Regions from separate parts of the Homo sapiens genome. Here region 2 is linked to region 1. Evidence: fine-mapped expression QTL. A gene starts in region 1. The other region holds a variant in brackets. All regions are shown on one strand. Distances are from middle to middle.

What was found. PIP is the estimated chance that this variant, and not a neighbour inherited with it, causes the effect. A credible set is the group of variants that fine-mapping cannot tell apart.
Region 2: its variant is the best candidate, but not a certain one, in a credible set for the expression of C12orf60 in sun-exposed skin (GTEx, PIP 0.53).

What each region holds. Positions count from the first base shown.
Region 1 is chr12:14,801,993-14,804,912 of GRCh38, reverse strand. C12orf60 (chromosome 12 open reading frame 60) reads right to left here and starts at 1,243. Exons shown (of 2, transcript NM_175874.4): 1 at 1,162-1,243. It overlaps WBP11 (WW domain binding protein 11), which reads left to right and starts at 1,435. Exons shown (of 12, transcript NM_016312.3): 1 at 1,435-1,561. It overlaps SMCO3 (single-pass membrane protein with coiled-coil domains 3), which reads left to right. Exons shown (of 2, transcript NM_001013698.2): 2 at 1-263. RefSeq lists an enhancer at 900-1,139.
Region 2 is chr12:14,824,109-14,827,015 of GRCh38, reverse strand. It overlaps ART4 (ADP-ribosyltransferase 4 (inactive) (Dombrock blood group)), which reads left to right. Exons shown (of 3, transcript NM_021071.4): 3 at 1-1,447. C12orf60 (chromosome 12 open reading frame 60) reads right to left here. Exons shown (of 2, transcript NM_175874.4): 2 at 2,601-2,907. Among named protein-coding and RNA genes, the nearest start is that of SMCO3, 11 kb to the right of the region's middle. The variant A/C (reference allele first, on the strand shown) is at 1,415.

The sequences.
Region 1 (2,920 bases):
ATGCCAGACTGTGTTTGTTATAGTTGATTCTCCCATCCAAGTACAAGAAATGTATTGAAATAAAAACTGCTCAGCATATCTTAAAAATAGTAGCTACATATAAAATTTTAGCTACATGAAAGACTTTAATATTTCCAACATACACTGTTTTCTCTTTCTCTTCTTGCATTGTTTTTCAAAACGAGTTGCAAAACTATGATCACTAATGTGTTAGGAAAGAAAAAAAACTAGTTGCAAAACATTACAACTTAGCTCACCTTCGCAGTTCAAGATTATTTTCTTTTTTATGTACTACCTGGTTTATCAGCTTTAACCTACAATATCTCGTCATTGCTTTCTGACACTCAAATTCAGTCTAAAATCAAATCAAGAATTTCCTAACACAAAGGTAAGTTTAGGTATAGGACCGATCTTATACCTTCAAGGGCAGTTTAAAGATTCTGCTAAAAATTAGTATGTATCTCCATCAATATTTTGAAATATTTATAACTGGTGGTAAGAATAGCCTTCCTACATGGGATAGTCAGGTTAAGATTAGAAATAACCAAGCGTATCCTCTAAGATAGTTTTTTAAATGTTTAAACTTACCTTTAAGGGAAATAAGTGGGGGCTGACTCACGGAAAGAGGGGATAGAAGGTAGGGAAAGGGCGAAGGCTAGAGTTAAGTGAAGAATCCCGTACGTAGAGTGACATCATAGAGGACTTTTGGCTGGTGAAAAGACCAGTCGGGAATATAGCCAATATATATCAACCTTGCCACTCATATAACTTAAAACCGACTGCATATGTATCCCCGTATTTCTTCTTCAAAACACTACTAACAAATAATAAATCACCGCCCATATAAGCAATCTGCGACTCTAATACGGGTGCTAATTTATTTGTTCAGGTGGTCTACAAACGTTCTGTTCTGCCTGTCTATTAAATTTCCACACGTACTAGGCGCTCACATGGGATAACCTGATGCTTACAAAGCGGATTAAACTCAGTGGCAAATGTTATCTGGGTATTCGTTTACACACGGAGACACCCCTAAAGGATCGCACCTGCTTGGGTCATAAGAAACAGAAAAATGCAAAAACTAAGGTAATTCCAAAAGACAGAAAACGCAGAACGCTTCTTTATCTGCAGAATGTACCGTTCTCGGACGGCTCAACGTACCAGGCTCCCAGCAACTAAGTCAAGATGCCTCCAACTCGAGAGACAGGACCGTCAGCCACTCAGTTAGCAGCTATCTTCTTCTAATTCCTATTGTACTAGATGAGCGCAATGAGGCGGGCTCTTAGCCGACAACCAACCAATTGAGTATTGTATGGAACCGGAAGAGACTCTGGTCCTGGAATTCTTGGGTATTCTCTATGGTTCCAGGGTCAAGCGGCGCTAAGAGAAGGCGGGACAGAGGAATGGGAAATGACGTGAGGAGTGCGGAGGGGCGCGAGGTTTCAAGATGGCGGTAGCTGAGGGGTTGACCGAGAGACCCAGTTGAAGGCCTTTACGAAGTGAAAGAGGCCGGGAGTCGCCCCCTACCCGCTTCTCGTAGTCCTGGGAGCACAGCAGAAGTGTGAGTGTATTGAATTGATTTACTACTCTTCCTCACCTCTTTCGTCCCTTCCACGTCCCGCGCAGCGGCTTGGGGGACACCCAGCCCCTTTGCCCCGCTCCTCCTCTCCCTGGTTGAGGTCTCCCTGTTGCGGACTGGGCTATTCCTGGGCCTGGGGTGGCGCGGCGACCAGTGGTTGCGCGGTTGGCATCGCCCGGGTCGGTTGGGGCCGCTTCTTACGCACGTTGATTAGTAGCCTTAGGTTTGACGTCTTGTACCTCGAGTCATGGTCGGTCAGCCGTCGCTATGGTTTCGTCAGTTGCTGGTGTTGCCTCCTTTGGTGAACCTGGACCCTATCCCATTGAAGCTTCTTTGGCTGTTTAGAGTTATCCAACGCTTATTTGGCTTGATTTTCCAGTCGCCTCCGCTTGTAGACAAAAAACTAATCTGCAGACTTAAGCTCCAGTGTCTTCCGTAAAATTCTCTGTAATTCGTATCCGTTGTGTTTCATTTGTGGGGGAGGAGATTCAGAACATGAGCCTGAGGAAACTTGAGAAAGGAAAGCACAAAAAACGCAGGCAATCAAAGATGGGAGAGCTTGTATATGTACTGATTTTGCTTGTTTTCCTCCTTCCCTACCTCCTACTCCCTGCTGCTCTCCCACCCCCCTAACCCCCCCATCCCCAGTTTTTCTTAGAAGGAAACCACTTGACAGGGTGTATGGTAGCTAGGCCAGGAATATGGATCCATTATAAAGATTTTAGTTAAGTAGTGAGTCAAACATCACAGGATATTTTATTTGTAATCTCATTGTATCATCAGAGCTTTGTTATAAAGTAATTGATGTCCCCATTTTTTAGATGAGGAAGCTAAAAATCAGAGCCTTTGATACCGCTGTCTTGAAGTAATTGCCACCAGAACAGCTGTGAAACATCTGGCTTTCTGAAACATCTGGCTTTCGGGGCAGTTGGACACTTGGTGAAAGAGACATTAACTGTAATAAACTGGGCTGACAAAATCTTCCCTTTCTTACCTTTAAAAAGTGTCTACTTGCAAAAGGAAGCAAATTTGTCCGCCTTTATTACTGGAAAGACTGCGCTTCAAAAAATTAAGCCCCATTATTTTGGAATAAGAGGAAGAAGTCATGTAATAGGGTACTGTGTTAATAAAAGTTTTAGCTTACAAAATATTTTTTCCTCAAACAAAAATAAGTATTCCCTTTAATTACCTTAAGAAATATATATTGGGAGTCAGGTCTTAGTAAGAAAAATATGTGTCTTAATATTTAAGTTTTGGGGAGCTCTCAGTATAGCACTAATTTCAAATATTTGCATTTTTAGTTGTGTTTTGAACTCTTGAGAGTCAAGCATTATATCTGAA
Region 2 (2,907 bases), 22 kb before region 1:
ATTTCTTCCAACTGAGGCAAGAAGAGACACCCGGAAGGCTTTAAGTAAGAGGCTGCATTTGAACCAGCCGTTAGGGCTCTAGGCTGGGAGAAGGGGTGAGCAGAAGGAGAAAAAAACAAGAAAGAGTATGTGCCAAGTGCGTAGTGCCCAAAACAAGGCCAAATATTAAATGCTTGGAGCTGAGAGAAAAATGTGATTCCTCTGGCCTATGGTTAGATAAAGCTTTCTATCAGAGATGATGTTTTACTTAGAGGAAAGCAGAAAATAGAAGCGAATACGGAATGATCGATGTATGTACAGCATAAGGTCAGGGAGCAGATAGGTCTGGCAGAGAGTGAGGGGTAATGTGGGCTGGAGAGGAAATTGGAAGCCACTCAGTGAAGCTAAAAAGTCAGCCAAAAGCATTTGATTTCCATGAGAAGTCATAATTTTCTGAGTAAGACAATTCTCCTAAAGCGTTGACTCTCTAGGCACAAGCAGCAATAGCATCCTTTAAGAACTCATTAGAAATGTGAATTTTAGGGCCTGATCCCAGACTACAGACTACAGAAATTGAACAGTCTGTTTTAATAAGTCCTCTAGATGATTCTGCTATACACCAACATTTGAGAACACTGTGACTTACACAATTATGATCCTTAAGGGAATAGCCAAGTTTCTAAAAAAGATAACTTAGTTCTAACTCCTGCTGCTGTTTTACAGATCAAATCTCTGGAGACAGAAACTATTCTCTTAAAATTATGTAGATTCATGAGTTTGGTTAAGGATAAATGTACATAGCTCACATCCCCTCAGTCTCTCCCTATAGTCCAAAGTTGTTGAGCAAGGAATCTGTAGAGTATTGATTTAAATTGATTAAGTTACATGTTTATGAAACTCTAAGAGACTAGTTTTAGAAATTTCACTGTAATTTCTGCTGGGATAAATTTGTTAGCCTGGGATATCTTCCAAAGATAAGGCGGATGCTCAAATATGTGTAAATTCATGCAACTGTTAACAGAGACTGTGCTGTAAGGAGTACTTATGTCCTATAGTAATTTTATTAAACAAATACATGTATGTCTCCTTTTGATGTGTACAGAAATATACTGTTTAATCTGAAGAAGCTGATTGAAACAGGAAAAATTTAAAAAGTAAAAACACTCAACCCATGTAATACTTTATTTTTATAACAAGGTGTTCTCTTTAATACGCCTATTAGATTATCCTGAAGTTCTCTATTTACTCTTACTTTAAAAAAAATCCAATGAAAGAAAATTTCAGTAAAGTTTGTTTTGCTAGAAGAATCAGGATTCTTGTACTGAGTTGTCTAATAATATGAATCAAATTGATTTACACTGAATGAACTAGCTCTTGATTTGGTAAAATTCAACAAGCATTTATTAGGTGCTTTCAGAAATACCAAGATGCAGCA[A/C]ACACTGGCAACTAATAAAAAAAATTACAAGTATAATAGTATTTCATTTTTTTTAATAGTAAATGATCATGTGTTGTGTTGTGTGGCAGTTCACTTTTTCCTCCCTACTGATGATTCATTCAAACAGCTAGGCCATCCCATGCTCACAGCCTAGAGGAGGAATGAGACCAGGCATAGTATAGAAACACACCCCACTTTGTTCTTCAAAAACTGAAGGATATTAGAGAAAATGAGAGGAACCCAAAACCAAAGTATTTGAGAGAAACATTAAATGTGAGTAATAGGTTTGAGAAAAAAATACAGCTTTTCCTCAGTATTTCCAGAAGCCAGGAGGCAGCAGCAGACATGATGTCATTAGAGTGGTCAGACTGGTGGTACCCAGTGGTGGGAAAATGTGAAACACTGTAAGTGATCACCAGCCTAACAACAGCCACCAGCACTGGAAGACCACTCATCTTTATTGAAGTGGGCACTTCCCATCTCTAACACCCTGGTTGTCATTCCCATTGGCATCTGGCAAGGACTTCCTGTGAACTGCCACCAGCTATTCTTCCAGTCACCTCACAGAAAGACTATGCACCAAGACTTTTCTTGGTCCTTGTCTCATTCATTTCCATATGAATCCCCCTAGCTGTTGCATCCAACATTCTGAAACATAATCCTAAAACTAAAAGGAGATTGAAACCCTAGACACATATAGGTCCAGAAAAAGTAGCAAAGTGAGAGTCCTGTCTCCCTTCTCCTCTCTCTCACCCTCTGTGTGTGTGTGTGTGTGTGTGTGTGTATGTGTATGGTAGCAAATGAATCAATTTAACATCCTCTTCAAAATAATAGAGTTCTTAATAGAAACCTATTACAAATAAGCAAGGTTTCAGCTTTGCTGTGGAGAGAAAATGAGAGTTAATGTATTGAAACTCATCGTTTTTTCCAGAACCTCCAAGCTCTGGTAATGGTCAAAATCCACTTGACCCTCCCTACCAAACATTTTGAAATTATATGAGGATGGAGAAGGGACTCCTTATTTTAAATGACAATGGGAATTACAATGATGGCTTTGGCTTGGAGTTATTATTGCTTTTCCTATTCTCAACAGAGTTCTATCAGGTATCATGTGAAATAGTTAACTTCAACACCAATCTTAGGAGTACATACTCATTTACAATGCATGAGAACCAAAGACTTATGGTAGACAAAGAGACTGCCCTATCTCATTTCTTTAAATAAAGCACATCTCAGATATCCTACTTCTGCAAGTGTTTTCCTTGTGAAAGTCTTTTCTTTGTGAAAGGCTAGAGTACTTCCATTTTTCCACCTCTAGTATTTTCTAATCATAAGACCTCAGGAGACAAGTGAGAATGAACTATCTGTTCTGGTCTTACTCACATAAGCAAGAAAAGTCTATTATTGCTCATTCACTGTTCTCACTTACTTATGAATCATATTTAAAATATTTAGTGATGGCTTCTGATCGTCAAGGTACTGAAGTATATAGA